Homo sapiens: one gene and its partners. The protein of the gene in region 3 interacts with the protein of the main gene of each other region in a pairwise test. Each region holds a gene or a part of one and is shown on either strand. Other genes may lie near its edges. The genes, in order: ZSCAN4, SPATA2, TBC1D22B and LHX8.

Region 1 (7,622 bases), on a different chromosome or scaffold from region 3:
TTAGGAAACATTCTTAGCACCTTTTCTGCTTGAATTTTTTTCCCATTAACAGTTACCATTCCTTAGAACTTTACTGCTTTAACCAAAGCTACTATTTTATGTTTATCTGTTTTTACTCCCTGTCCTTTCCTACTGATGTTTAGGATTCAGAAGTAAAAGTGAGTTTGCATTGCTTGAAATTGATTTCTAATCCCAAATCAGATTATCTGGACAACTAGAGACACACCCTTTGAAATCCTGAATGGATAAAGAATTTAATCCCTTTTCTGTTAATATATCATTGCTATTTTTGTGTTTTTTCTCCAATTTTATATATGGTTAACATTTCAAAGATTTGTGCAATTTTGAAAAAAGCAAATTTCATGCCATAAAATCAGAAAATGGTAGGAGTAATACGTGGACACACAAAAACCTAACTGATTTCTGTTAGTTAATGTTATTTCCTGCTTTGTGTTAATCTCATCTGGTCTGATTAGACCAGATCTGCTACCCTGATCGCATCAGTTAATAAGGCAGAGGTGATCCTGGTAAAATCTCCTAGGAGACAATGGAACACATTCTTGCCTTTCCCTAACCCAGTTGTCATAATGCTTCCAGTCAACGTTTATAAAATGCTAATCTGCTCACATCATACCCCACTCTACTCTCTGGATGGCTCCCCTTTGCCCTCAGGGAAAAGCACTGAGTCCTTGTCCTACGAGGCTTTCCTGGGCCAGCTCTACACTTCTCAAGCTCCATCTTAGGTGTTGTGGCTGGTTCTCTATATCCAGGGACATTGGTCTCTCTCTCTCTCTTTTTTTTTTTTTTTCCTGTGGAACCCATGGCTTCCCCTTCATTTCACTTCCCTCCAAGTTCTCTTTTTGGATTACCCACCCTTTCTCCCCTATGACACACAGACCACATGTTCACACTTGGAGACATGCACTCCGTCCCACATAGACAAGACTGCAAAGTATTATGGCTTATTTCCCAGAACCTGGGAATTCAAAACAAGGCTACCGGAGCTCTAATCTGGAGTCTGGCAATTACAAACTGTGACGCAGGCATGCTACCCGTCAGGTCTGGGTCTGTATCCTGGGCTTTATGATCTCTAATGACACCCAGCTACATATTTCATATAATGCAATACAAAGGAATTACTAAGCTGGGCACAGTGGCTCACATCTGTAATCCCAGCACTTTTGGAGGCTGAAAGTGGGCAAATCACTGGAGGCCAGGAGTTTGAGACCACACTGGGCAACATGGCAAAATCCTGCCTCTACAAAAAATAGAAAAATTAACCTGGTGTGGTGGTGTGCGCCTGTGGTCCCAGCTGCTCAGGAAGCTAAGGTGGAAGGATCACTTGAGCCTGGGGAGGCTGAAGCTGCAGTGAGCTGTGATTGGGGCTACTAAACTTTAGCCTGGGTGATAGAGATCTTGTCTCGAAAAAAAAAAAAGAATTACTAGAACATAAAGTCATACGATAGACTTTTTGAAGAAAAATCTTCAGTCACACCAGGCCTTTATACAGAGTTCACAACATCAAGCCCTTTTGGGTCAGAGCTGTTGTAACAAAAGACCATTCCCTACACCTGGGAGACCCCCATATCTCTGTAGTTAGGAATTTTCCTGAAATAGCTATGCCTACATACACATGTATACACACTCAAAGACACAAAATTATGTATACACACTCAAAGACACAAAATGTATACACACTCAAAGGCACAAAATTTTCCTTCCATTATGGAAGCTTACCTCCTTGGTTGACTGGGTAATCCCGGGCCGAACACTGAGCTGATGTGTGACTAGCTTTCCACACTGGGTTTATCTGATGTGCCTCCTAAGGCTGCTCCCTTTTATAGGGGCTGGGATCAGTGATTGATTTAAAGACGTGATTGGATAACACTTGTCTGTTGATTGAATTACTGATGGAATCTTCATCCAGCCCCAGCTCCATGTCAGTGATTGATTTAAAGACGTGATTGGATAACACTTGTCTGTTGATTGAATTACTGATGGAATCTTCATCCAGCCCCAGCTCCATGTCTCTAATACAGTGTTCTATACCATCACTGGTCCTGGGTCAACAGGTCATAAACAAACACATTAATATTTCTGCAGGCTAGGTGCAGTGGCTCACACCTGTAATCTCAGCACTTTGGGAGGCTGAGGCAGGCAGATCACCTGAGATCAGGAGTTCAAGACCAGCCTGGCCAACATGGTGAAACCCTTTCTCTACTAAAAATACAAAAATTAGCCGGGCATGGTGGTGGGCACCTGTAATCCCAGCTACTTGGGAGGCTGAGGCAGGAGAATTACTTGAACCTGGGAGGCAGAGGCTAGAGTGAGCCAAGATTGCGCCACTGCATTCCAGCCTGGGAGACAGAGCAAGACTCTGTGAATCCCTAGCCTGAGCAACAAAGCAAGACCCTGTCTCTACCAAAAATAATGTTAAAAATGTTAGCCAGGCATGGTGGCATGTCTGTGTAGCTTGTTTGAGCCAGGGAGTTCATGGCTACAGTGGATTATGACCGCCCTACTGAACTCTGGCCTGGGAAATGGAAGGAGACCAAGTCTCTAAAAAAAAAACAAAACAAAACGAACAAAAAAAAAACCATGCCTGTAATCCCAGCACTTTTGGAGGCCGAGGTGGGCGGATCACGAGGTCAAGAGTTCGAGACCAGCCTGGCCAATATGGTGAAACCCCATCTCTACTAAAAATGCAAAAATTAGCCAGGCGTAGTGGCGCGTGCCTGTAGTCCCAGCTATTCAGGAGGCTGAGCAGAAGAATTGTTTGAACCACAGAGGCGGAGGTTGCAGTGAGCTGAAATTGTGCCACTGCACTGCAGCCTGGGCGACAGAGGTAGACTGTCTCAAAAACCAACAAACAAACAAACACACACAAAAATACAAAATCTGCGGTAAAATGTAACAAGGTCCACATTAAATGAAAATATAAAGACAGGCTGGGTGTGGTGGCTCGCGCCTGTAATCCCAGCACTTTGGGAGGCCGAGGCAGGTGGATCATGAGGTCAGGAGTTTGAGACCAGCCTGACCAACATGGTTAAACCCGGTTTCTATTAAAAATACAAAAATTATCTGGGCGTGGTAGCATGCACCTGTAATCCCAGCTACTCAGGAGGCTGAGGCAGAAGAATTGTTTGAATCCAGGAGGCAGAGGTTGCAGTGAGCCGAGATTACGCCACGGCACTCCAGCCTGGACGACAGAGCGAGACTGTGTCTCAAAAAAAAAAAAAAAAAAAAGGAAAATATAAAGACAAACGTTAGTCTCACAAATTCTGATCAAGTTTTATTATAAATTACTCATAGAAACATGACAAACTTTTGCTCAAACTTTTAAGTTTTCAGAGATTTATGAATTACAAGGGTGGCAGAGGGCAAGGCTAATGCTGTGACTCCTGTGCCAATTCCAGGCTGGTGAAACAGAGGGGGCCCGGGACCCAGAGAAGGCATTCCTAATCCATCAAAAAGATGACAGGGGTTGAGACTAGGATTATATCAGTGGAAAGGGAGAAATTGGTGCATATTTTATATTGAGAAAGCATATGATGTTTGATAGACTTAACATGAGGCTTGAGAGAGATGGAGGAGTTAAAATGGTGAGAAGCGCCTGGTCACCTAGTGTGGTGGAAGCTGTGCCTTCTTCCCTGCACTCTCCCTCCCCACTTTCCACCCTCATACAGGCTGAGGCTTTGGTGGAGTTGAGAACGTATCGAAGGGGTGGGAGCTAATTACAGCCATGTGTTTCATCTGCTCCATCAGGCATGCAGCCTCTTGGGGCTTAGATTGTCCCCCTATCACTGTTGGGTACAGAGTTTGAATCTCCTGGTACTCCACTGATGAAATGTCTGCTTGACTTCCCCACATTAGGAATTATGTTCTGAATCCTCACATTATAAGACTGTGTACTAGTCCATTTCTCCAAGGAGTTTCATCCACATATACTCCATACAGAGAAGTATCCCTGCTCCCATCAAGAGCCAATTTTCCACTGGTGGTTTAGGTCCTGTCACCAACTATGTCATTAAACCAACTGTGACAGGAAAATTGGCTCTTGATGGAAGCAGGGATACTTCTCTGCTACAACAATGAAAAATGGGCTGGGCGCAGTGGCTCATGCCTGTAATCCCAGCACTTTGGGAGGCCGAGGCGGGTGGATCACCTGAGGTCAGGAGTTTGAGACCAGCCTGGCCAACATGATGAAACCTCGTCTCTACTAAAAAAATACAAAAATTAGCCAGGCATGGTGGCAGGCACCTGTAATCCCAAGTACTCGGGAGCCTGAGGCAGGAGAATCACTTGAACCTGGGAGGCCGAGGTTGCAGTGAGCCAAGATCGCACCACTGCTCTCCAGCCTGGGCGACAGAGTGAGACTCTGTCTCAAAAACAAACAAACAAACAAACAAAAAACAAACAAAAAAAAAACAATGAAAAATGTAGACAATGTGAGTACCACTGGAGGCCAGTTGTTAATTTGTGGTGGGTTGAAAGCATTTCCTGTCTGCTTCTGCAGTCTCAAGGAGTTCCTTGAGCTCTGTAAGGAGCTGTAAGGAAAAGGTTTGGGGAAAAGCTGGCAATTTCTGTTTGGAGGAGGTTATTGGATTTTTGAGTTCAGATATACAGCCAGCTGTTGGACATGCTGGTGTGTAACTCTGGGAGCAGTTAGACCTGAGGCACGATGATATCAGTAAGAGTAGTAATAGCATCAGGGATCATAATAACTAACCTTTAAGCAGTCAGGGCATATTTGACTCTGTTCTCAGTGCTTTCTGTATGTTAACCCATTTCCATCACAACAGTCCTGTAAAGTAGATCCTAAATAACTCCATTTTAACATCAAAATAACAGAGGCACAGAGAAGTTCAGTACCTTGGCCAGTGCTACATAGCCTGTAAGTGGCTGGGCTAGGATTTGATACCTGGCTCCAGAGTGGGACTCTGAATGCTACATTAAGAAGGCAAAGACACACAGCCACTGTGTAAAACCAGCAGCTTTCTAGGGAATGGGCTAATGGAGGAGTGAAGGGCATGAGCAGGAGGATTTATCCTTGGGGAAACACAGATGGTGGAGGAAATGACCTGGTGATACCCCAACTTAGGCATAGAATAAACAGGCACAAAACAATAAAAATAAATGTGAAATCCACATAGTAATTTAATCAAATAAGGATATTACAAAGACAACTATCAAATGCTTTTCTGATCAATTGGGAAGGCAGGTAGTGCTGCCTTTGGTAAAAATAGATGACCCGTTTACATCCAGCATCATCTCAACTTGTGTCTGGTGAGTATCCCCGCTCCAGTGTGAGTGAGGAAAATAACCTTTGTTTCCAAGAAGACAAAGCCAATCCGCCTCAGTATGTAGGAAACAGTGATTTCAATTAGAATAATAATAATAATAATAAAAACCTGGTAGGAAAATAAACAAAACTGTTAACTTTCTATTTTTTTCGAGACAAAGTCTTGCTCTGTCGCCCAGGCTGGAGTGCAGTGGCACGATCTTGGCTCACTGCAACTTCCGCACCCAGAGTAGCTGTGATTAAAGGCATGCGCCACCACACCCGGCTAATTTTTGTATTTTAGTAGAGACGGGGTTTCACCATGTTGGCCAGGATAGTCTCAAACTCCTGATCTCAGGTGATCCGCCCACCTCAGCCTCCCCAGGTGCTGGGATTACAGGCGTGAGCCACCACACCTGGTGACTTTCTTTTCTTTTTTTTTTTTTTTTGAGAAAAAATATTTAGTCAATTTATTTATTATTTATTGATTTTTGGTTGTTGCACCTACTTTAATAACAACTTCAAAAAAGGAACAACATTCATCCGGTTCTAAATGTCTTTATGAACGCAAAGACTGGGGTCCCCTGCCAGCTTCCGAGGCAGCCCTGCACCTCCCGTAGGTGGCCGCACTTGGACCGCACCACTCCATTAGCTAAAAGCTACAACAGTCGTAAAGAGAAGGAAAGAACTGGAGAGCCAGCACGCGAAGCTTATCCAATGCTTCCAGTCATACAAGCAAGCTGCAGGATCTCATGGAGGTGCGTGGATCACCCCGTGGAAATTCTCCAGGGCGCATCGAAGCTTAGCATGTTTAGTGGAGACTTGGACAAAGCCCCGAGTCTGTACAGGACCTGTAGGAACCATGGCAGGCATCGGCTGCTTCATAAGGATCTGATATGGTTCCTTTTTAAAAAGCGCATTCTTCAAAAGGCAAACTACCCAATTTCCTTTTAAATATGAATACAATACAACTTATAATACATACACTTGTCAAAATTGTGTGCAAAGAACTGCCAAAGTGACTTTCTCAAATTAAAAAATTGTCCTAAGATGATTTTCTGTAAACCTACTTGGGCCTCGCAAAGATATTTTAAGTATCAGTATTATTATTGAGACGGAGTTTCACTCTTGTTGCCCAGGCTGGAGTGCAGTGGCACGATCTCGGTTTACCACAACCTCCACCTCCCGGGTTCAAGCAATTCTCCTGCCTCAGCCTCCGGAGTAGCTGGGATTACTGACGTGGGCTGCCCAGCTTATTTTGTATTTTTAGTAGAGATGGGGTTTCTCCATTTTGGTCAGGCTGGTCTCGAACTCCTGATCTGGTGATCCACCCGCCTCAGCCTCCCAAAGTGTTGGGATTACAGGAGTGAGCCACCGCGCCCGGCCTTGGATTAATTTTAGAAAAAGGGTGACTTTAGGTCAAACACACATTTACAAAAGAACAATGATTCACCCAGGAGCTGACAGGTGCAGACTGATGTCAGTGAACTTGTCTGCTGGCTGCTTTTGTATGAGCTTTAAAAAAAAAAGTATTAAAATTTAAAATACAAAATTTGACACCAAGTGTAAACATATTTGTGTCTGCAGACACTGGAGATACCAGGTGCCTCCCTGTATTTAGCAGCCTACACAAATGGTAAGGGGTGTGCTGCGGGATTTAGCCTGCTGGAGTGGCTGGGATGGGAAGAACCGCCAGAAGCCAAGTAGATACACTCCAGGAAAAGTATCAGAACTGAAGTTACAGAAAATGGAATCCTAGCAGCACAGTGGCAGCTAGATTCTTTTTGCTTTTGTCTGTAGCTTGCATTAGCAGAGTGCAATATGCAATTACTATCCACTTTACTATTCTAATCGTGCAGAGATCCCAAAAGGTAAAAGACCCCTATGCTTCCAGCCAGCAGCGGCTTTGCATGAGGACTGCCAGGCTCTCAGACCCCACATCCCTTGGCCTTCTTAGTGGGGAGAGCTCCCAGAATGCCGCTGGCTAAAAGCCTATTTTGCCCCTGGTCAGTCATGGAATAGCCCAGTTTAGCCTCATTGTTAATGAAGGACATCAATCCCAGGCCGGTCTCCATGAGGAGGGGGCGCTCCACGACCAGCACGCGTGCGCTTGTCCTGGAAAAGGACTTTCCTTTTTGGCGTTTTTGACCTTGGATTCACAGAGCCTTGAAGCTTTTCATCTGGCAGAGTTGCTGTGTTCTCATCCGCAGCAGCCATAGCGTGTTGTATGAAATTGGCACAGGGTACGTTTGTGGACCAGGGATTCCATCTGTTTAAGAAGGAAAGGCGACTTCGCTTGCCCCACTGAATTCGAATCCCAAAACCTTCTCGCTTGTTGAGC
Region 2 (7,955 bases), on a different chromosome or scaffold from region 3:
TGGGTGGGACAGGTAGAGGACAGCAATAAAGGAGACACATCCTGCCTGCAGCTCTAGCTGGAAGAGCATACCACCTAGTATCAAAGTAGGTATGTGCTCTAACTTCATACTGTTCTGTCCATAAAAAAATAAACAATTTAAAATGTATATTCTCTTAAAAAATAAAAATGCAGGCCAGGCGCGGTGGCTCACGCCTGTAATCCTACAACTCTGGGAGGCCAAGGTGGGTGGATCGCCTGAGATTGGGAGTTTGAGACTAGCCTGGCCAACATAGCGAAACCCCGCCTCTACTAAAAATACAAAAATTAGCTGGACGAACACCTGTAATCCCAGCTACTCAGGAGGCTGAGGCAGGAGAATGGCGTGAACCCAGGAGGGAGAGGTTGCAGTGAGCTGAGATCGTGCCATTGCACTCCAGCCTGGGCAACAGAGCAAAAACTCCATCTCTACATAAATAAATGTATTGCACCACTGGAGAGGATAGTCACACATGCATTTACCATTCTTGACTTATCTAAGAGAAGCTGCCATCACGCCTCTGGCCCCAGGGTCTGTTTTTTGGTAGTCTGAGAACCATTCAAACACAGAGACATTAAGCTTCCGAATACTGCTGTAATTTTTCTCCAAGGAAGTCAGCCTTGAACTCAAAGAGACTGATTTTTTACAAAGTCAGCCAGTCTCAAGCTCGGCTCAGCGTCTGCTGCTCTATAATCGCACCACAGTCCACACCCTTGTTTGTTGCTGAAAAACAATAAATAAAGGAAAGGGATCCAAACAGCCCAGCTGATGTTCAAAATACTCACAATAAGGACAGGAAGCCTATCTAAAACAAATCTCAAACCAACCTGGGTAGGTGAGGGAAAAGGCGGAAGAAAGTAAAAGCTAAAAGATAATTAAGGGCAAGACAAGCCTGGACAACATAGTTAGACTCCGTCTCTACAAAAAAAAAAAAAAAAAAAATTAGGTGGGTGTGGTGACACCCACCTGTAGTCTTAGCTACTTGGGAGTCTGAGGTGGGGGGATCCACTGAGCCCAGGAGTTTGAGGCTGCAGTGAGCTATGATGGCACCACTGCACTCCGGCCTGGGTGACAGAGCAAGACCTTGTCTCAATCAGTCAATAAGGAAAGGAAAGAAAGAGACTAACAATTACTGAGGTTCTACTATGTGCTAAGCATTGGGCTTCCCACTTTACCTACATCATCCCATTTAATCCTCACAACTCTATAAGGAAAACAGGCTCTTCCCATTAAAACAACCTGCCCAACAGAGTTTGAAAGGGTCAGAGCTGGAATCTGAACTCTTGCTGGGAGGCCCTTGATGCCTGGGCTTTCTCCAATTTACCTCACTCATTTATTGTTACATCAGTACCATTTACCAAGGGATTACTGTGTGGCATCCCTCTGCTAACTGCTCTGTGAAAACCAATGAAATCCACAGGATAGATCCAAGGTTAAAGAGGAAACTGAGGCTCGGAGAGGCCAACTCACTTACCCTAAGTCGTAAGGCTAGGAAGAAGTGGATCTGAGCTCTGAACCTAGGTCTAACGCCAAAACTCCGACTCTTGCAAAGCCATCCTGCTGCATCTGCTGGACAGCTCTACTCGAAAGTGTTTGGCTAAGTTAGAATGCCTTATGGCGGCGCGAGCAGAGTTGAGTTACAAAAATTCCTGTAGTAGCAAAATTCCCATCTTCCCACACCGAATGGGGCTAGGAGAGCTAATCTCTATATGATGTAAGCTCAAGGGCCAAGGAAAGAGGCTGGTCAGAGACATCGGCCAGTGATGAAGCAGCTGACATCATCCCTGCTGAAAACATTTTCTGAGAATACAAGATGCCTTGTAGCTGGTCATAGCTGGTGTTTTTTCTGAGCACAGAGCCAGCAATTCATTCCCAGCACTCTGCAAGAACAACAAAATACGCTCTCTGCAAAAACATCGTGGTTACAGGAGACCGAGACAGCCCAGCGACAGAAGCTGCTAATTTCTCCAAGCAACCCAAGGATTGGAACGCCAAGCCGTGCCAGTCTGGTGGAAAAAAAAAAAAAAAAAAACCCAAAAAACAAAAAAACAGCACTGTGAATATCCTGAACACAGAGACAGGCAGGTGCCCAGAGTCAACGGCTCCAGTCAGCACCTCCTGCACCCACAATCTAGGTACCTTCTTGAAAAGCAAGTCAATGGAAAAAGAGATATTGCACAGTCAGGGAGCCAGTGGCTTCTTTAGTTATTTTTTGAACATCTAAGAGGAAAGCTGTATCTGTTTAGAGTCCCACTGCATGGAAGTGAAGTGATTCCGAGTAGCTAAGCATTAGCTTGGCTTTACCTCAGCTGGCCCATTCAAGCAGAAATGTTCCCCAAGCAGCATTTGAAGGCGCCCCCTCTCTGCACAGGCAGACCTATTTTGGTCTGTGCACTGCCCCTGTCCACAGGTTTACACATCCCTGGTCTAGCTCCATCAGCCTCCAAACAGGAGACGGGGAAGTCAGTTCAACCCCCTCCACCTCCCCACCCACACCAATGCACTCGTTCCAAGCAAGAGGCTCCGAGAAACATCCAAGGCACCTTCCACTGGCTGTGAAACACCAGAAGGTCCCCACACTCCTACTAGATTCCAAAGAAATTCACACAGAGTCCTTCCAAACCTCTGAAAATAACCTCAGCGGTGCTGAAAGAAGCTTCCCTAGTGGCAGCTGCCTCTCTCGGAGAAGCTCTGAAGGAAGCTGTTTCCCTCCCTGCAGGGGACAGAAGCTGGCGGCTGCTAAGTCCCAGCTCGGTCATTCCTACAGCCTCGGGGGGCCACGTCAGTTGTGAAAAACAGCCCAGTCTCAAATTCTGGCCCCCCCTACGGCTTCGTGAATTGAATGAAGTAACAGGAACTATCACTTATTGGACGCCTGCTGTATGCCAGAGGCCCTGCATGATCTCATTCCATCTCCACTCCAGCCCTAGCAACCAGGTTCAATCACTTAAATAGGCAACTGAGGCTCTTAAGATGAAGTGACTTATCCAAGGTCACACAGTGAGTACAAACCCAGGTGTGCCGCCAGAGCCTGAACTGGGAACCCCTGCGCGGTAACTGCCTCGTGGCGAAATCGGGGTGTCCTTCTGTTTGGCCAGTCGCCGAAGAGGGGTGTTCCTCTTGGGCGGCCCTGAGCCACCCTCGGCGGGTCCCAGGAGCCTGCGAGGCAGCTCCCGGGAGAATGGGGGTCCTGAGGATAGGCTGGGGGTCCCGGGAGCGCCGAAACAGCGGGCCCACCTGTAGTCCTGCCTGCCGTGAGGGTACCCCGCTCCCGGGCCAGCCGAGCCCTGCCGCTGTCTGGCGCCCCCTCCGCCTGGGGAAGCCCCGAAGGCAGTTTCCGCCCGCGGCCGCCCGTCACTCACCCTGACACTGCCGCCGAGGACGGCCCGGCCGAGGGAAGCAAGCGAGAGGCGCGGCTGCCGCCGGAGCCGGGCCCCGTCGGGCTCTAGCCTCTCCGGCCGGCTGCAGGGGTACTGAGACCAGTACCCGGGGGCCAGCAGCGACCCGGAAACACTCGGCCCGGAAATGATGTCACCATGAGGCGGGCCCGAAGAGAGGGTGGACCACGGCTGCGCGCTGGCTCCGGGAAGCGGTCGATGCCCGCGGCCGACGGAGACTACAACCCAGAGGCGGAGGACAAAGCGGAAGGCCGAAGAGCGAGGACGAAACCGGCGGAACCGCACTTTGGAGCCTAACGAGCCATCGCTGCGTCTGAGACTGGGACCCGGAAGTAAACAGGCCGGACGTGACGCAAGCCGCTCGGCCTAGGGATGGTGGCTGGCCGGGTTGTCATGGAAACCGCTCAGGAGCAGGGAGCTGGGAGCTATGAGTGCTGACTGCGTGAACTCGGCCTCCACTTCCCGGACCTGCCACTTATCATGATCCACGAGCTGTACTCATGACTCCGCACAAGCAAGCAGGGGCTGACGGTCGGATCCCTCGCCCCCATTTTACGGACAGAAGTACCGAGGCTCAAAGAGAGCCAGTGAGATGCTGAAATCACGCGTGATTGGAATCCAGCCTTGCTAGGGCTGCGGGTGTTACGGGCCGTGGGCGGCGGTTAAGAGCGTGGGTTCTATTTTTAGTTTTGCCACTTACTAGCTGTGTGACCTTGGACAAGTTACCTAACCTCTCTGAGCCTCAGCTTTCTAACCTGTAATATTAAATAATAAAGCCAGGCGTGGTGGCACGCGACTGTAGTCCCAGCTAGTCGGGAGGCTGAGGCGAGAGGATGGCTTGCTCCCAGGTGTTCGAGACCAACCTGGGCAACATAACGAGGCCACGTCTCTTAAAAAAAAAAAAAAAAAAAAAAAAAAAAAAAAGCCGGGCACGGCGGCTCACGCCTGTAATCCCAGCACTTTCGGATAAACTATATATATATATAATCTGACATCCCCACCAGACCCTGAGCTTCTTATTCATCTATTTCCCCCCGAGCTCTGCACATGTCTGATGAGGAGGCACACAACAGATGTTCATTGATTGTAGGATTCTCACTCTGAGTCTTGGTGACCCCAGCTAAAACCGGTGGGGCTTGTGTGATGAGTCAGTGACACAATACTGGGAAACGTTTGGAGAACCAGCAATCTGCTGCTGTCCAAACAGTAGCATTACTGTGTTTACCTGTCGTTGCCTGAGCACCGCTCAAAGTCCCTGTGTTCTTTATCAGCTCATGTTTAAGCTCCTCTCTTAATTATCTGCAATGTGATGATGTTCACAGGAATTCCATCTGAGACAAACTGTCCCACCTTAAGTCTGCCTCTTACAGCAACTCAGCACTCTGGTTTGGTAGCTCTTACAATATTGCATTTTCACGTGGGGCTGCTTAAAAAAGTCCCCTCCAGCTCTGTGGGTCTATGACAGGCAAAAGAGAAACAAAGATTTTGAAGAAGGGCTTTACCAGTAGGAAACCCTGGTCATCATCTACTATCAGAAAAGACCCAAAGTCTCCAAAGACAGTCACATTTCTCAGTTTTTTTTTTTTTTTTTTTTTTTTTTGAGACGGAGTCTCGCTCTGTCACCCAGGCTGGAGTGCAGTGGCACAATCTCAGCTCACTGCAAGCTCCGCCTCCTGGGTTCACGCCATTTTCCTGCCTCAGCCTCCGGAGTAGCTGGGACTACCGGCACGCGCCAACACGCCTGGCTAATTTTTTGTATTTTTAGTAGAGATGGGGTTTCACCAAGGTGGTCAGGATGGTCTCCATCTCTTGACCTCGTGATCCGCCCACCTCGGCCTCCCAAAGTGCTGGGATTACAGGCCTGAGCCACTGTGTCCGGCCATGTTTCTCATCTTTTAAACACAGTTGAAGGCTTGTGATTTCTCTACTTGGTGATGTAGAAATGACAGGAGCGTCCTTTCCCGACTTTATTATATAATGATTACCAGATTATGTAAGGGTCACGTGACAATGATTAGGCACTTCTACTTCCGAAGAGCCAACAACACGAACAATCTACCTACCTCTTTCTATTTTTTAGTTTTTTTTTCCATCACCAAAGTAATACATGATTCCAACAATACAGAGGAGTATAGAACAAAAAGCAAAACAGAAAAGCTACCCCATGACCCAGCAATTGGATTTCTCAAAATCTGCTAGAGAAACATACACTGTGCCCAAAGAGACCTCTTGCATCATTGTTTCTAATGCAAAAGCAATAATAGGAAATATTTAAATCTCCATCACTGGGGTAATGGTATATCCATACTAACAAATACTGTGGATCACTTAAAAAGGGTGATGCATGGCCAGGCGCGGTGGCTCACGCCTGTAATCCCAGCACTTTGGGAGGCCGAGGTGGGCAAATCACGAGGTCAAGAGGCCGAGACCATCCTGGCTAACACAGTGAAACCCTGTCTCTACTAAAAATACAAAAATTAGCCGGGTGTGGTAGCAGGCGCAGTAGCGGGTGCCTGTAGTCCCAGCTACTCGGGAGGCTGAGGCAGGAGAATGGCATGAACCTGGGAGGCAGAGGTTGCAGTGAACCGAGATGGCACCACTGCACTCCAGCCTGGGCTACAGAGTGAGACTCTGTCTCAAAAAAACAAAACAAAAAAAGTCAACTGGGGACAGGAACACAGATACAGATATCTGTCTTTCATTCCACAAACACACATTTATGTGATCTGTATTAATATCTTTCTCCCCCAGAAGTCAGTGAACTCCATGAGGACAAAACTATGTCTGTTTTGTTCACAATTATATTACTACTACCTGACATATATGCACTACCTAGCATGCAATAGGTTGTTCAACATAATTTGTTTCTGACCAGAATTTTCACTGAATACCTACCATGTGCCAAGTTTGATGTCAGATTTTTTTTTTTTAATTGAGACAGGGTCTCTCACTCTGTCACCCTGTCTGGAGTGTAGTGGCATGATCATAGCTCACTGCAGCCTCAACCTCCTAGGCTCAAGCGATCCTCCCACCTTAGCCTCCTGAGTGGCGGGGACCACAGTTGCACACCACCACATCTGGCTAATTTTGTTAACTGTTTTGTAGAGGGAGGGTCTCGCAATTTTGCCAAGGCTGCTCTCAAACTCCTGGGCTCAAGTGATCCTCCCACCTTGGCTTCCCAAGGTGCTGGGATTACAGGCATGAGTCACCATGCCCACCCTGATGTTAGGTTTAAAGGGCATAACTGTGAGTGAGACAGACACAGTTCCTGCCCTCACAGAGCATCCAGTCTCCTTAACCGAAAGAGAATATTCATAACATAGGAGTAGGATTAATAAAACCCTAGAATTCAGGATAGAAGATGGTAAATGATATGAGAGGGGTATAGAGCTTAGAGCATGGAGAAGTGACCTCTGACAGGGTAAATGAAGGATAGCCTCCAGGAGGAAGTAGCATTTGAGCTGGGCTTTGAGTGACCTGGACATGTGAGGCTGTCCAGCTTTCCTTCCAGCTGGAGTAAAGGGAGCAATCAAAGGCAAGGACCTGAGATCAAAAACTCGGCTACCTGTGGCTGGGCTCAGTGGCACAAGCCTGTAATCCCAGCAATTTGGGAGGCCGAGGCAGGCGGATCTCCTGAGGCCCAGAGTTTGAGACCAGCCTGACCGATACAGTGAAACCCCATCTGTACTAAAACCACAAAAATTAGCCAGCCTGTAGTAGTGCCCACCTGTGGTCCCAGCTACTCAGGAGGCTGAGGCTGGAGAATCGCTTAAATCTGGGAGGTGGAGGTGGCAGTGAGCCAAGATCACGCTACTGCACTCTAGCCTGGGACACAGAGGGAGACCCTGTCTCAAAAAAGCAAAAACAAAAACAAAAAACAAAAACACAAACTCAGCTACCTGCAAGCACATAATGTGGGCAAATACGAGGTACTAGAGTACTATAGCCTCACACTGCGTAGGACCAGAAATGAGTAATGTAATCTAACATGGTACCCGGCTCACAGTAGGCATCCAATAAGTACTTCAGTGAGAAAACAAATATTGTTGAATTCCTTCCATGCTTCAGCTGACTTGTGGCCAAGATCCCCACTCACCAGGAATGACCAGATACTCTGATTTTTGGAGAGGAGTTAGAGATCCAGATTGTTTGTTTATTTATTTATTTAAAGATAAGGTCTTGATCTGTCATCCAGACTGGAGTACAGTGGCATGATCATGGCTCACTGCAACCTCAAACTTCTGGACTCAAGGGATCCTCCCACCCCAGCCTCCCACACAGCTGGGACTACAGGCTCATGCCATCATGCCCAGTTAATTATTTTCTGAAGACGTGGGATCTTGCTGTGTTGCCCAGGGTGGTCTCAAACTCCTAGCCTCAGGTGATCCTCCCACTTTGACCCACCAAAGTGCTGGGATTACAGGCACCAGCCACTGCGTCCAGCCTGGAATCCAGATTTTTAAATAAAATTTCTTAATTATAAACAATATTTGTAAATATACCTCCTGTTTCTACCTGTTGAGAGGGCCTAGAAGAAAT
Region 3 (8,567 bases):
TGACGCAATCTCAGTTCACTGCAACCTCCGTCTCCCAGGTTCAAGAGATTCTTGGGCATCAGCCTCCTGAGTAGCTGGGACTACAGGCACACACCACCAAGCCCAGCTAATTTGTATTTTTAGTAGAGATGGGGGGTTTCACCACGTTGGCCAGGCTGGTCTCGGACTCCTGGCCTCAAGCGATCCACCTGCCTCAGCCTTCCAAAATTCTGGGATTACAGGCCACCACACCTGCCAAAGCCTGCAATGGTAGAGATTGCCTCTTATCTTCTAGGCATTAATACAATGACCATTTGATGTGCTAAGTAAATGGGGCTCATGTGAATAACTGAGAGAACTTAAAAGATGCTTAGTTCCACCAAGTTACTACATGACCCAGCAATTCCACTCCTATTTATCAGCAGAAGAATAGAAAATATATATCCAAACAAAAACCTCTGCATAAATGTTCATAAAAGCATTACGTACAATAGCCCAAAAGTGAAAACAATTCAAATATCCATCAACTGATGAATGAACAAAATGTGGTGTATGTATACTATGGAATATTATTCAGCCATAAAATGGAATGAAGTACTGATACATACTACAGCGTGGACAAGCCTGAAATCACTGTGCTTAATAAAAGAAGCCACTCACAAAAGGCCTCAGATCATATTACTCCATATATATAAAATGTCCAAAAGTGGTAAATCCACAGAAACAGAAAGTAGGTTAGTAGTTACCAGGGTCTGGAGTGGGGTGGATGGGGAGTGACTGTAAACAGGTATGTAGTTTCTTTTCAGGATGATGAAAATGTTCTGAAATTAGTGGTGATGGTTGCACAAAACCATCTATACTATAAATGAATATACTAAATACCACTGAATTGTACACTTTAAAAGAGTGAATTTTATGGTATGTGAATTATATCTCAATAAAGCTGTTATTTTTAAAAAGAATGTTTCATTCATTTGCAACTTCTTTTATTTAATAAAATTTCTATTTGTTGTCACTAAGATTGTTGGATCATGATCAGACAAATGGAAAGAACCCTGTCATCGCTTTTATTTTTCACCTTTCAATTTGCAAAGAAGAGTAAACTAGTTTCATTTCCAAGTTTGCATGCATCCAGTAGAGTCATTTGTGTCATTTCCCCACCCAGGAGAAAGTTTTTCTTCTCTAAGACCGAAAGAGTACAGATGCAAAAGTTCTATTCTTGAGAAAATGCCCTAACATTTTCTTTAAACCAAAGTACCTTTCTATCTAAAAGAACCTTAGTTTTCTCCTATGACCAGAGGCTTGTGGGCTTCACTGCTAAAAGCACACAGCTGAACAGTATTTCTCTTTACCAAGTAAGGTACTAAAAACTATTATGAATTGTGACAATATTTGAATACCTTAAACAACGAAGACAATGAGCTGGGGTAAGGATCTGAGTAACATTATTTTAAATGTTTACTTGCTGTAATAATGACAGCAATGTTAATAACTACTGTTTTTTTGAGCAACTATAATGTGCTAAATAAACACTGTCCTAGGCTCTTTACAAATAGGGTATTTCACTTAGTCCCCACAGTAACTCTGAGGAAAGTATTTTTATTTCTCATTTCATAGGTAAGGAAATTGAGGCCTAGAAAGATTATTTGTCTTGGTCACACACACAACAGAGCCCAAATAGTAACCCAAGTCTTTCTGAACTCGAAAGTTCTCTATTTCTCTATATTCTTCAAAATGAAAAAGGAATCCAGAAACTTGAAGAAACTGAAAAGACTTCTCTTCCTATCTCAGAAAAGTAGTGCTTTAAAAAAGTTGACTGTTCTTATAGCCAAATACAGGAAATATAGGAAAAAAAGATTGTTAATAGCAACCAGCAGTCAGAAGGCACAGAAGCCCATGCCACGTCCCACATCTCTTACACTGCTTCCTGATACAACAGTCTTCCTATTGATTATGATTATAATCTTAGGATGTCAAAATTTAATGATCTCACTACGGAAAACCCCAGAGAATAGCAGTTAGCACAACTAGAGAGCTCACTAGACCAGGAAGGAAAAGGAATCAGTTGGCAGGAAGTGTGCTTACCTAAAAACACAGAACATCTTTAACAGTAATATTAACACTGTTGAGTCCACAGCACTTTAATCTGAAGTTATCTTTGCATTCCTTTCTATTACTTTAATAAGTATTACTAAAAGCTGATTTCCACCCTATTCTCCATATGTCTACTAGAATCCTTAATAAAATAAGACTCTTGGTGGGGCATGGTGGCTAACGCCTGTAATCCCAACACTTTGGGAGGCCAAGGCAAGAGGATCACTTGAGGCCAGGAGTCAGAGACCAGCCCTGGCAACACAGTCAGACCTTGTCTCTATTTCATTTAAAAAAAAAAAAAAAATTAAGGCTCTTACCTAGCCACTACTGACCCTCATCTCTCTCTCGCTTAAAAAAAAAAAGTCACGAGTTCAAAAGATTATCCCAGAAGGAAAAAACCTGAATCCATTAGAAAAGGTAGCACAGGGGACACAACCAAACATGAATTTCATCACCAAGTAGACTGTAGCTGGCAGAAATCTTAAATTTACGACTGAAATACACACTCTTCCTTATACTTCTCAGGACTTTGCCCAAAATAAACTGAAACAGTAAACCAACAGTAGATTGATGGATGGATAATTTGCCAAAAGTCTCAACATACACCGAAAAGAGGGTGGGGGTAGTCTTAGGGGGTCTGCTCTCCAGTTAAACAACTGAAGAATGAACGAATTTAGTGCATTTGCACAAGAAGTGCATTACAATGCAGGGGAGGAAGAAGTCACTTGGGGTTGGACAAATCCTTAGAAAATGCCAAAGGAATAACCCTGATTCTGTGGTCGTCTTGTAATAATTCCTAGTGGGAAAGGGCCAACTCAAGATAAAGTAAGGTCAGGGTTGAGAATCGTCCTCACTTTTCCTGCCTAACCCTCTCGGCAGGCGGCCCCAAACTCCCACCGGAATCCTTCGGGTAAGTGCCGACCTCAGGGATCAAGGGAAGGGGCCATCCTCGAGCGACCAACCACCTGTGCGTGGTGGAGACCCCTGAGAGGGAGTCCTAATTAGAGTGGGAAGCAGCTCTGGGGAGGAACTTCCGAGACCAGGGCCGACACTGACTATTCACCCAACTCCACTCCCCTTTACGCCCAATCTTCGGCCACCTTCCCGCTGAGGTCACCCCTCCTGAAACCTCCGCCCCCAGACCCCGGTCTACACCCACATCCAGCCGTCCCCAAAGCTCGCTGTTCGCTTCGCTGCCTGACAGCTGCCCTGCCGCCACCAGGCAGTCCCAGCTTCCCCAAACCAGTCTTCTGGCCTCTGTGGCGCCCCAGGCCCGCGGGATTCAGGGATTAGGATCTGGAAGGGTTTGGTCCAATCCCCTATCCCTCTCAGCGTCCTGGGCTCACCTCCCCGGCAGCTTAGCGCTCCTCTTCCAAAACTGCTTGCTGTTCTCAGCGGCCATTGCTCTGGCCGGGGGAAGTCCTTGTAGGCGGGCCAAGGGTTTGCCCGGCGAGATGCCCCCAGACCCCGCAATCTGAGGGCCAACCCAGGCCGCTTCCCCGCCGCCGGTCACCCGCTCCCAGCTCCTGGGGACGCCATCTTGGATGTGGGCACCCCTCCACCCAGCACCGCTGCCATTGGTGAGCTGCGCAAGCCGTGGACGGGCCGACCAATTGGGAGCCGGAATCCTGCAGGCCGCTGAAGCCGACCGGTAACGTCAGGGGCTGGGCACACAGGTGGACGGGGAAGGCGGAGCTTGGACGAGCCGAGAGGCGGGGCTCAAAGTTCCTACCCGCGAGAGGGAAGAAGCAGGTAAGGTAAGGGACCTATGGGAAGGAAGAGGGGATTATCTTCTTCGTGAGGAATGAAGTTCCTTAGTCTAATATTTCTTGGCAAGAGAGAACATACTATGTATTTATATATAGGAATCTTTCACCTAAAAGTAAGGGCCCATGTGTTGGTTGTGGCCCATTTTTAACATCTCTCAATTCAATGACACTCTGGTTATTACCCTCCTTTCCTCATTCCGTTTACATGTCCATTCGTTTTTCTGAAGGAAGGTCAGCAGGGACCCGATAGCCCGGGATTGCTAACTGTTCAACACGTGAGCAACGGTTCATCAGAGTCTCCCTCTCCCTCTGTTTATTGAAAACGATTGAAGGACTTGTGCTGTGGGTTAAAAATTCAAATGATCTAATCCCTATGTCAATCCATAACTCTCACTTTCTGACTATGCTAACAGTGTATATAGGAAATGGTTTATGATAGCTGTCCAACTCAGATTACCAAATACCATTTCTTTGAAGGACACAGTATTGCTCCATCGTGTGAATCACAAAGTTAAGGATGTATCTCCTCCCGGCCCCACCAACATCCTTAATTTCCCTTGTTAATCTATTATAAATCTTGCACCCTTGAATTTATTTTCAATCTAATTTTCCCAGACAATGAGATTTAGTATTAGCATTTTGAATCCTTTGAATGTCTTGTCAGCGTTTTTTGCTGGTTTTGAGTTTCTGTGGTTGTATTCCGTGGTGATTTGGGGAAAGAGGGAAGGCGGGCACCAGTCCAGAGTGGTTTTTGTCCCTTCGAAGGACTGTTGAGGTGGGCTGCGTGTCCCCCACCCCCACCCCCACCCTCCATTTACAGCTACCACATGTACTTCCACATATTGGAGAATACTTAAAGACCTGACCCCTGGCCCCAGCCAAAGAAGGACCTTCTTTTATATGTCCTCCAACGACGGTTTCTTCATTACTCCCATTTTCAAGCTTCTTTTGTCCCCTAATTTAAGAATTATAGGATTGGATGACAAGGGCTATTTTTACTTCCTCTGAGTCTTTCATGCTATAAAAGCATCTTATCTTCTTTATGGGCATTTAACCCAGAGAAAAAAAGCCCCTCTATTCTTTTAATTATTTTACTTGCCTTTCTCTGGCGCTTCTTTTTCTTAGGATGCAGTGACCAGCACTGCACACTAAGCCCAAAGAGGGATGTACTGAGGCTTTGTTAAGGCTGATGTTTTGTCTTTATTCTGGACAGCCAGACCTTTTGCTGGCTGTTTGGACTTTAGAAGAGTTGATGTCTTGAAAGAGTAATCTAAAACAACTTCTAGATTCCTTACCTTGGTGGCAACCAGCAGTTCAGAGTTCATTGTCTTAAAGGTATCCTCTGAATTGTCTTTCCCTATGTGAGCTGCCATACACTCATCCATGTGACAAGATACCTGCCACTTTCCAGCTTATGCACATGGCTTTAGAGATGTTCCAGAAGCTGCTCCCTATTGATTTGACATTTTACTATGTGGAAAGCAAAGTATGATTTGTGTATCTAGACATATCTCAAAATACTCCTTTTTCTTAATCTTCTATGAAATGTTAAATGACACTGATTCCCAGGGGGTGTAGTTAACAGTGCTCAACCCAGAAAAGCCCTGTTATTTCTACAGTTTGTTTTCTATATCAGTTTCCCCTCCAAGATTTTTTAAAAATTCACATCAGTTACCTTGTGATGACTTTTTAAATAGGGAAATTGAGATTGTTGGAACCTTTTTCACCACTACCACTTGGTCACCCTAATCTTCACCAACCACACACCTGCTTACAGCAGCCTGCTATTCGGCTCCCTGCTTCCACTCTTAGCCCCTTAGAGTCCATTCCCCATATACCAACCAGAGAGACCTTTTTTTTTTTTTTTGAGACCAGGTCTTGCCCTGTCACCCAAGCTGGAGTCCAGTGACATGATCTCAGCACACTACAACCTCCATCTCCTGGGCTCAAGCAATCCTCCCACATCAGCCTCCTGAGTAGCTGGGACTAACAGGCACATACCACCATGGCCAGCTAATTTTTTGTATTTTTGTAGAGATGAAGTTTCACCATGTTGCCCAGGCTGGTCCCATACTCCTGAAACTCAAGCAATCCACCACCTTTGGCCTCCCAGAGAGCTAGTATTACAGGTGGGAGCCATCGCACCCTGCCCAGAGACACCCTGTTAAAATGTAGACGATATCATGTCACTCCTCTGCTGAAAACTTTGCAATGGCCCCCATTGTACTTGGCATAAAATCCAAGCTCCTTAAAGACCCTACATGACTTGGCTCCACTCACCTCTCCAGTCTCATCTCATTATGCTTTCTTTCTTGCTTAATCTGCTGCAGCCATGCCCATTGGTCTTATTGCCTGGCTCTATTTTTCTTTAAAGCGCTATCACTACAGGCCATATTATGTACTTGTTTGTTGTCCATCTCCATCCCCTAGAGTAAAGGCCCCCTGTCTGTTGCCTGTTAGGAACCAGGCCGCACAGCAGGAGGTGAGTGGCGGGTGGGCATGCAATCATTACTGCCAGAGCTCCGCCTCCTGTCAGATCAGCAGCAGCAGCAGATTCTCACAGGAGTTTGAACCCTATTGTGAACTGCTCATACAAGGGATCTAGGTTGCATTGCGCACTCCTTATGAGAATCTAATGCCTTGTGATTTGAAGTGGAACTGTTTCATCCTTTAACCCCCCTCCCCCAAAATTTTCATGGAAAAGTTGTCTTCCCTGAAACTGGTCCCAGGTGCCAAAAAGGTTGGGGACTACTGCCCTAGAGATCGTGAACCCCACTAAGACTGGGACTTTGTTTTGTTCCCTGCTGTATCCCCAGCACCTAGAATAGTGTTTGGAACATAGTGAGTGCTTAGTAAATATTTACTGAGTGAAAGAAGGAAGAATATAAATATTTCTTGTCTTTCGATTCTATGTTGTTCACATATTTTTATGTTAGGAAAGATGATAGAAACAGTGTTTCCTAACCCCTAGTAGGATGTGTCCACTTTACCAATGACTCTACATCCTTGCCTACATCCTTGGTTGAAGAACAGTCTTCTCTGAGAAAGATTGTATTCTTCAAACTCTTTTGCAGCTTCAAAGGAATGTGCCTGTACCTGGAATGATGAGGGAGGGAGGCCACCCACCTAGTCAGGAGATCAGTTGGTAGCTGTCATCAAAGGGCTGATAGGTATGGCAGCCACCCTTGCCCAGCAAGAGGTGTAAATCATTGGTTTGAGGTTCCCAAGGGGTCCTTAGAGGCCTTCTGATGGAGGTCCTTCTTGGCAGACATTCACTGGTCCACTAGACCAGTGCTTCCTATACTATATTGCACATGTGAATCACTGAGGATTATATTAAAAACCTAGATTCTGATTCAGGAGGTCTGAGGTGGAGCCTACAACTCAGAATTTCTAACAAGCTCCCAGGTGACACTGATGCTGCTGATCCATGGACCTCACTTTATAGATCTTCTGTTACTAATACAGTATGGCCTGTGATTGTTTACTTTATCTCAAGAGTTTATTTTGAAACTGTAAGTAGAGGCTTCTGCAAGTTTTTACTTTCCCCCCCTCAACTTCATCTTCATTCAAAAGAGGGTTAAACAACTTAAAATGTGGCAAAGTATAGTTAAGGGATGAGATATGCCTGGGTTGACTGTGGACTCAAAAGAGGTAGGCATATCCCAACCCTTAGAGAAAGTTTTATGAAAGAGATAATCCTTGAGTAGGGAGAGAAAAGGAAAGAGAAAGGCCTGAAGAACTATAGGAGGAAAGTCACTTCAGGACAGGAGCTCCAATGGGAAGATAAAAATAGAGAAAAAAGCCTTTGGACTTACAGAGAGATCCCTGGCAGACTTTAACCTTAGTGAAGGAGTGGAGTGGAAGGAAGGAAGTAGACACTGTGATGAGGGGAAGGGTTAAGAAATGAGAGCAAGAAGCAGCCCTCACAATGCACTGTGCAATGTTGGGCCACCTAAGAGATAGTGAGGTCAAGCTGGGATTTAACAGCAAGAGAGCTTTATAGTATCTAAACAACCACTGTTAGAGCCAATGGCAGAGATCAGTTATATTAGAGAAGGCAAGGGGATAAGCAAAAAGACTGAAAAAGTAAGAGGTTATAGGAATAAAGAGAGGAAGAGAAAGTTTTTAGAATTTGGGGGGTGAAGGGAAAACTAGGTATTTCATTCCTAAGAATTTATTCTAAGAAAAGAAGTCACCATACCTGGCAAGAAGAAAGGGGGAAATCTCTGTGTACAAAGATATTCTTTGCCTTGCAACCAATAATAAACAGGGGAAAATGAAAAGAATATGAAGATTTAAACATGAGAAGAAGTTATGTAAATTATGGTGTGCAGTTTATAAACTTGAACCATGTTATACCATTAAAGAGGGCAAATTTGAATGCTACATAGCACATCAAAAAGGTGTATGAAATGTACAGCAGGGAAAAGGTAGAATATAAAATATCTTTGCATGATTTCAATAAGAATATATGGGTTTTGTCAAAGATTGGAAGAAAACGTGGAAAAATTAAGCAAATTTTGGTAGAGGGTAGAATTATATACATCTTGGTACTTCTGGAACTTTTCTTTAATGTTACCGTTTTTTAATATTATAAAATATACATCACCTGGGTAACAGTAGCTCACACCTGCAATCCCAGCACTTTGGGAGGCTGAGGCAGGTGGATCACTTGAGCTCAGGAGTTCGAGACCAGCCTGGGCAACATGACAAAACCCCATC
Region 4 (7,606 bases), on a different chromosome or scaffold from region 3:
GCGTGCTTAAGGCGCTATTGTCGGCTTGGAAATGTCACAATGAATAAATGGTGTGATGGACTTTAGCGTTTCGCGCCATAGCTTTTAGCCGGGAAGCTTTCCAGGCTGCCCTGCTTAATTTCGGCGTGGTTCCTAATTTTCTCTCTCCCATCCTCTCTCTTAGACTGGAAACGCTTCCCCTATTTCTTCCGTAGCGGACCGGGAGAGCTTACTGGCGCTCTGCGAACCGGCTGGAAAGAAACACCGAGTCACTCGTACAGACTCTTGGTCGCAGAACTTGGCTTTCCGCTATTGGTCCTCCAGAACCGCTTGAAACAACTGGCCCCAGCTGGCGCATCAGACCGCAGTGAGGAATGCCGCGGGGCGGGTGGCGAAGGCAGGGTCTGCCCGCCAGTGGATTCCCGGGTGTCCCGCGTGGAGCAGGCTTGCCCAGCTGGGAAGCCCATCAAACCTCAGTCTTGGCCCACAGTGGGAGAGAGACCAGTGGGTCCCAGACGGAGGCCCTCGCCCGCTTTTGGCGACCTCCACTGGCGTGAATAAAAGCACCCCTCTCTTACCCTCAGAAACTGTGGGTAGCAAGGTATAAAACGGAGTCTGGGACCGGTAAGTCCCAAGGTGAGCCCGTATACAGCTCTGCCATCTCTGAGGGGTTATGCAGATTCTGAGCAGGGTAAGTTTGTGGAAAGAACCTCTAGAAGCAATCTCCTAAAGTCTTTTTCCAGACTAATATTTATAATGGTTACACGTGATGGGCAAAAATCCAAAGACACGGTCTCCTAACCCTGAACCAAGTGTGACATCCACAGTTTCAGAGTGGTTTTAGCTGAGATTTCACCTTCAGGGATCGAAGGAGTCGCCAACCAGAATTCTGCCAGAATCCGCACCTTCTTATGATCGCGAAAGTCTCCCCATCCTCCACCGCCTCCTACAGTCCTATGGCCCACTGTACCCTTGGCGCTGGAGCCCTGGAGGTGGGCGGTGAGGGCCGCGGGCCAGGGAAAGCTCGGGTCCGCAAGAGCAGGGCTCTGTTTCTGCGCCTGCAGGCCGCCCGGGAGTCCTGGATGCGCCTCCTTTGACCACGTTTTCTCTCAGGCTCCAGCTGTGCCTCGCCCCGATCTCCACAGGTCTGACCCAGGCGAGTCCCTAGAAGGCGGGCGGGAGGAGCCGTAGCAGGGGCAGTTTCGGGAATCCGAGTTTCCGGAGATTGCCTGAGCACCGCAGAACCTCCAGGTTAAGTTCTCTCAAACGTGTGGTTACTCACCCCGAGGAGCTCAGAGGCAAAGGGTTCAATAGTCAAGTTGGTGGGGACTTTCCCTACTTAAAGTTATAATTTGCTAATTCGGATCTATTGCTTTTAAATATCGAGTTCCAGAGACCTCTGTCAATGCAGGCTTAATTTCATCCCACTGATGAAGGATGTTTATAAACGGCGCCTGCAGTGCGAGCTGAGTGTGAAAATATCAGTTTTATGCCTTTTGATAAGAATTACCGAGGCGGAAGGCTCATTAGACGATTACAAATTTCGCAGCTGCTCGCAGCCCAATTAGGCAGCTCTTCGGGTGAGTGGAAGCTGTGGGGGTCAGGGCGGGTTGATGTTCCCTCTCTCCAGCCCGGACCTCCAATCAAGGCCTGGCTCCACGGGATCTAGACCCCTTCCCTGCCCCCATCTGTTTTTAGGGAGATACACTCAAGGCTTCCCTTAAGCAGGAGAGGCACAGCCTGGGACAGGACGCACTCCGAAGTCTCTCAGGCTGTCTTTCCCATGGGCTTGCAAAAAGCCCTGTGGTCCACGGATGTTGGTAGACACCTTGGGTGGGCCTGCCGCCTCTGATTTTCAAATTTTCAATTTAGTAGGTAGGAACTGTCACGACGCAGGCGATTGCTTTTCCACCTGTGGACACATAAGATGATGTTTTTTTGATCAGAGTCTTCGTTCAAAATTGGAATCAATTGGCGTTTGGGCTAAAAACCCTCATTACTAAGACCAAACAAACAAACAAAAACTCTTTTGATTTTTAGCGCACCCCTGTAAAGTAGGAAGATAACTTTTCCGTTGCCCCAGCCGAGGATGAGCGTGGGTAAGAGGCGTGACGCGAGCTCCAGGGAACCGGGCCACCAGGAAGAAGCTATACCTTCGTACGCCCACCCCTGACAAAAGGTCAGAAGGTCGTTGGACCCCAGACCGACAGGACGATCAGCCCTGGGATTCATAGCAAACACATTCCCCTCTTCTTGCACACTCGACCCCCAGCCAAAGGCTTATACCGCCCAGGACATAGAAATTGACTCACCGCCCAGAGGCTTACAGCTCAAGGAGGGGTGCGCGCAGCTGCACCCCGGGACAGGTCAGCATCCCACAAGGCGCCTGGAGTAAAGCGAGGCCAGACCAATCTTTCACGTCTTCTGCTCCTGTCTGACGACCATTCTTCTTCCCCAAGCCCAGAAACCTCTAAAAATGAATCATTTTCTCCACTTATGCAGAGATAGACGCTCTTAGATCAAGGTTAGTATTTTGAAAACCTGACTGAGAGCCGCCTGATTAGGCGAGGGTGGGTGGAAAGACCGCATAAATGCCCGCACCCCCGCCCTGCTTCCCTAACACAGCTCCAGCTCTCTCTGGATCTCCAAATGACCCGCGCGATAAATTCTCCTCGATAGTAGCCAGACAGTACCCCAGATTCACTTTAAACCCTAACACACACACACACACACACACACACACACACTGTAATTAAATATCCAAACCGGACCTTTATGTTTAATTCCACTTTCAACGAAATCCTGCTCTATACACGACCTGATGGCGCCAATGTTCTGCACGACTCTGACTTTCCATTCGGAAGAGCGGTCTCCACAACGATGCTATTTCATGGAAAATGCATTATGTGAATTTCTCCACCACCCCCAATACCGATTTCTGCATTTGATGAAAAACACAAGTCTTTCTGGTTCCCACGCACAAGTTAGCTTTTTGAAAAGTCAGTCCACCCCAATCTTTCAATTTTCTAAGAGGGCACAGATTAATTATATCGTCCTCCTCCCTTCGCTCAGTAAATTTAAACGAGATCTCCCAGAGAGGACCGGCAGGGGGATGGCTAATATTAACTTGTGCGCAGCTGCGCGAAAAGAAAAACAATGGCGATAGGAAAATGCTCTGAAGACTCTAGTGTTTATGGGAGAAAAATGCAATGGAGGAAAAACTAAATTTGTAGTGGTAACTCGGTCCCAGACTCTTACACAGGCTCACTTCATCACAGGAAAGGCTATCTATCTCCTCCGCTAGCCGGCTGCTGACCGAGCTGGGGTCTGGGCAAGATCATTTCGCTCTTTTTCTTCTATACAAATAAGGCAAGGAGATAAGATATGTGTGTGTGCGTGTGTGTGTTTTACATATATATTTCCATCTAATTAAAGCAAAATCCTATGATTCTGTTAAAGGCCTTTAAGAAATAGACTCCTAGATCTTCTTAGTTTCAGAAGTTTAGCTTTTTAAATGGAAACAAAAATCATTTAAAAATAATCTTTTAACCAAATTTGTCTTTATACACTAAATAATGAAATAAAGTTTATACCACAAAGAGTCTGTTTAAACAAACACACCTTCCAATCTTAATCAAAATTAAGGTACCCTGAATACCTCCCTCCGCCGCTTCCCCGCCCCGCAGTCAGAACTTGAGGCAGAAGACAAGGCTGCTCGGGCTTACATTTTGTCTAGGAGATGAAAGAGCAATACTCATTAGCAACATACTTTTGTCTTTCTTGTAGCCTTGATTTCAAATCTAGTCGCAAATCATAAGCTTTTGTGTTGCTCAGATGTTCCTTCTTTATCTTAATGAGAAAACTTTTCGGAAAGGGAGCGCGAACTGCTAGATAAGTCAGCTCCCAGGCTGCCAGGAGCGGTGGCATTCCTCGGCTACACCGGACAGCTGCGAGTTTCAAGAGAATGACTAAAACTTTCAAGTCACCCAGACCTCCACTTCCCCTTCTGCTTGCTGCAGAAAGAGATGTAACCTGAATCTTTGTTTAGGTTTGGGTTGGGGAGCGAGAATTTAAAAGTTATGGCAAATGCAGACAGCAGATTTTTTAAAGTCAAGTTAACAGGACATCCCCCAATTTTTTTTTCTTTAGTACTAAACCTGAAGTCAGTTGGCGTGTTCTGATAAAGATTTTAACATGTAGAGAAGGCGGGTTTTCCTGAAAGAGGCGAAGCAATTTCTCCAGGAAAGACTTTCCCCCACACGCCCCCTTCCTTTATATTAGGTTCCACCCTCTGGAAAACAAAACTTTTTTTTTTTTCTTTTCCTGGAGGGACTCAGGAAAAGCTCAGTGCTCACTTCACTCAGAGCTCAGTGAAGCTGGGAAAGGAATTTTAAGAACGGTTCATCAGAAAGTGGTCAGGCCACAGCGGCCTCTTTGGACGAAGACACACTTGTAGCATTATCCTTCTCGGCATCAGCTTTTATTAGTGGATCGGGGCGGGGGAGGGGGGAGATCGGCAGACACGGACAGCCTCTGACCCTCTGGAGTTGGTATGTGATAAGCAGCCCTAGCAGTGCCATGTATTGGAAGAACGATCAGATGTTTGTGTGTAAACTAGTAGCAAAGGACGTGCCGGAGCTGGCAGTTCCCCCTGAGAAGGTGAGCGAGCCGACGCCTGGCCAGACCAGCTGAATCGCAGTGTCCTTGAAACTCGAGTTGTTTGGGCTCCTAAACAAGGTTCAGAAACTACCTGTAACGGCCTCATCTTCAGACCTGGCAATTTTTTTTTTTTATTACGTAGTAGCGTTAGTCAGTAATCATTGCACTCCCTCCCCAAAAGCTCACTTAACCTGAGACATGGAGACTGTAATTTGGGAGATGAAGCCTCGAGCCTAAGGCGCTCTCAGGTCCATGTGAGTCGTGCTTTTGTTCTATTTGCTGTGGTGATCGTGGCGGTCCGGGAGAGTGGGTCGGGAGGACTGGGCGGCTGTCGGGTGGAACCGGAGACCTGGCTCGTTTCGTTCGGCTGCCCGCGGACACTTGCCTGCCCTGAGGCACACCTCCCTCTGCGGGGCTCCAGAAAGGCCTCCGGGATCCCTGGGCTTGCCGGGAGAGCCATTTTACCTAAAATGCCAAAAGAAAACCGCAGGGCACAAAACGAGTCACGCGGTTTGTCTGAGTAGACTGGGGAAGCTGACAAGCTCTCACCTCACTCGGGAGGCAGGACCTGTGGGTATTTGGTGTTTTAAGTTTGAAATCATCTGCAGCCTGTCTGAGGGCCTCAGCAGGACGCGCGCGGGGCGCCCCTGACTATTTCTTTGCTCCGAAGCCGGTTGGGGACACCAGGCGAAAGCGGAGCTGTTCTGTTTAAACGCCCTTTGTGTGTGAGGACGCGGCCTCAGTGCAGCTACGCTGGGTCCCGCGTAGGGAGCGCACCCCAGAAAGGGAGGGTCTCGGCCGACGGTCCGGGAGGCCCCCAGGTTGGTATCTTGCCTGGTGCTTCCAGAGGGAGGGAGAAGGGGAGGCGAACAGTCAGAAATGCAGAAGTGCGAGCCGCTCGAGTTCGGGGTACCCACCCGCCCCCGAGCTAGAGTTTTTGGAAACGAAAGCGGTCTAAGCCCAGGGACGCTGCGTTTTCGTTTAAGAACAAAACTCCAGCAAATACTTGGAAACACTTGAGTAACGCGCGTTGTTTCTTTAAAACATTTTGTCAGAGGTTGGGTGAGTTCTTTTAATGGCACAAATTAAATTCAGCTGGATATTTTCCATTATTCTACCCGCTTTTTGCGCTGGTTAAAAATAATCCTTTAGTAGCTCAAATGTTGACTTACTGAGCAATAAGTGGCAATTTACACCTTAAAGAAACGAGTGTAAATCACTCGCCACTCTAATTGCTGTAAGTTTACGAAAGAGCTGCTGGCTCGGTTTAATCTGAAGCATTTTCATTCAAATTGTCATCGGAACAAACACCAGGCTTCTTAAATCCCGCTGTAATTAGCTTTCAAGTATCCTATTAAACCTCTTCACCTTTCGGGCTATCCTATTCAAAAAGCCCCCTTTTTAAAATATATATGTGTCTTGCTCTTTTAATTGAGGTTATTAAAGAAATCTAGTTTCTTCTCCCACCCCCTCCTCAATCCTCTTTTCTTCTCTCGCACTCCACCTCCCACTGCCCCGCACCCCCTTTAGCCCGGTGTTCCCCGCTCCGCTATGATTGACGTCTGGAAAGAAAGAGCTTTGTGAGGGGATGATTGTTATTAACTTGTTATCCCCGGCGGGGGGGCGGGGAACCGACGTGCCCGGGTGAGCGCCGGAGACCCGGAGCCCGGGGAGCGCGGGACGAGCTACCAGCGCTCGGGTGGCGGCCGCCAGCGGCCAGCGAAGGAGGCTGCGCGCCAGCCCGCCCGCGGCGCCCGGGCTCAGGCGCCGTGACGGCTGCACGCGCTGCCCCGCACTCTGAGGGCCTTCATTAGCTCGCTCCCCGCGCCGAGGCTGGGGCGGGCAGCACGCTCGGAACTTCTGATCTGTTTCTCCATACTTTCTCCCCCTCCTACTCCGCAGTGTCAGGGGCTCATGTCAGAGGAGTGCGGGCGGACTACAGCCCTGGCGGCCGGGAGGACTCGCAAAGGCGCCGGGGAAGAGGGACTGGTGAGTGCGGAGGGGCTCGCGTGCTGGCAAGACTGGCCGTGGGGAGGCGGCGCAGGACGAAGGGCCGCTGTCCCCGCGCTCCTTCCAGGGCCCAGCTGGCCCCTCCTGCAGCAGACAGAGGACGGGGCGGAGAGGGTCTGGGTGGGGTGGGAAGCTTAGCTGGCCCGCGAGGAGGGCAGGGCCGCAAGACTTCTGGGGTCCGAATAGGTCAGGGGTCGGCAGCCCCAGCGGGTGCGTAGCCAGAGCTTGGACTCGGGGAAGAGGGCGAGAATCGTGACCTCAAGAAGCTGGGGGTGGGGTGGGGTGGCCAGGGGGAAGGGAGGGGAGGCGGTGGGGGCGCCCTTGTGGGTAGGTGGGATGCGAAGGGGAGGAGGGGTCTAGAACCGCCTGCGCCTCGCGGTTTCCTGCAGGTGAGCCCCGAGGGAGCGGGGGACGAGGACTCGTGCTCCTCCTCGGCCCCGCTGTCCCCGTCGTCCTCGCCCCGGTCCATGGCCTCGGGCTCCGGCTGCCCTCCTGGCAAGTGTGTGTGCAACAGTTGCGGCCTGGAGATCGTGGACAAATACCTTCTCAAGGTAGGATAGGGCCTCGGGTGCGAGGCCCAAGGGGAGCGGGCTTAGCGTGGGAGCTCTGGGAAAAGAGTAATGTTCCTCCCACCAACCTTTCCGTTCAAGTTCTGGGTGAAGGTTGTAGGCTTTTGCAGAAAATCAGCCCAGTTTAGGGCAACTCATGCGGTGGGATAAAGTGAGAAGAAATCCCAGACTCTTCTATGTCGTTGCAAAACAGCTAATGTGTGACACATCCTGGTCTGGACGCGCCGGATGTGTGTGGATGCGCTGGAGTCAGCCACTGGCTTGTAGTGGAAGGGAAGTGGAAAAACCCTTATCCATTCTGAGACAGAAACCTGCTTAGTTATTTTTCACCCAGCCCCGAATTATTCCTTTCTTAAACATCTTTGTTCCCTCTAAACGGACTGTGGTCT

The links.
Region 1: the proteins of TBC1D22B (region 3) and ZSCAN4 interact in binary tests that used the Homo sapiens proteins (3 or more experiments, as listed by UniProt).
Region 2: the proteins of TBC1D22B (region 3) and SPATA2 interact in binary tests that used the Homo sapiens proteins (3 or more experiments, as listed by UniProt).
Region 4: the proteins of TBC1D22B (region 3) and LHX8 interact in binary tests that used the Homo sapiens proteins (3 or more experiments, as listed by UniProt).

What each region holds. Positions count from the first base shown.
Region 1 is NC_000019.10:57,664,683-57,672,304, reverse strand, and holds the start of ZSCAN4 (zinc finger and SCAN domain-containing protein 4), read right to left. Parts: upstream 3,371-7,622; 5' UTR 3,102-3,370; intron 2,061-3,101; 5' UTR 1,738-2,060; intron 1-1,737. UniProt on the Homo sapiens protein: Embryonic stem (ES) cell-specific transcription factor required to regulate ES cell pluripotency. Binds telomeres and plays a key role in genomic stability in ES cells by regulating telomere elongation.
Region 2 is NC_000020.11:49,912,000-49,919,954, forward strand, and holds the start of SPATA2 (spermatogenesis-associated protein 2), read right to left. Parts: upstream 3,531-7,955; 5' UTR 3,381-3,530; exon of another isoform or gene 3,031-3,380; intron 1,704-3,030; exon of another isoform or gene 1,493-1,703; intron 963-1,492; exon of another isoform or gene 1-962.
Region 3 is NC_000006.12:37,252,826-37,261,392, reverse strand, and holds the start of TBC1D22B (TBC1 domain family member 22B), read right to left. Parts: upstream 3,622-8,567; 5' UTR 3,476-3,621; coding exon 3,420-3,475; exon of another isoform or gene 3,249-3,419; intron 1-3,248. UniProt on the Homo sapiens protein: May act as a GTPase-activating protein for Rab family protein(s).
Region 4 is NC_000001.11:75,130,063-75,137,668, forward strand, and holds the start of LHX8 (LIM/homeobox protein Lhx8), read left to right. Parts: upstream 1-4,325; 5' UTR 4,326-4,892; intron 4,893-6,320; exon of another isoform or gene 6,321-6,540; coding exon of another isoform or gene 6,541-6,552; coding exon 6,553-6,627; intron 6,628-7,037; coding exon 7,038-7,199; intron 7,200-7,606. UniProt on the Homo sapiens protein: Transcription factor involved in differentiation of certain neurons and mesenchymal cells.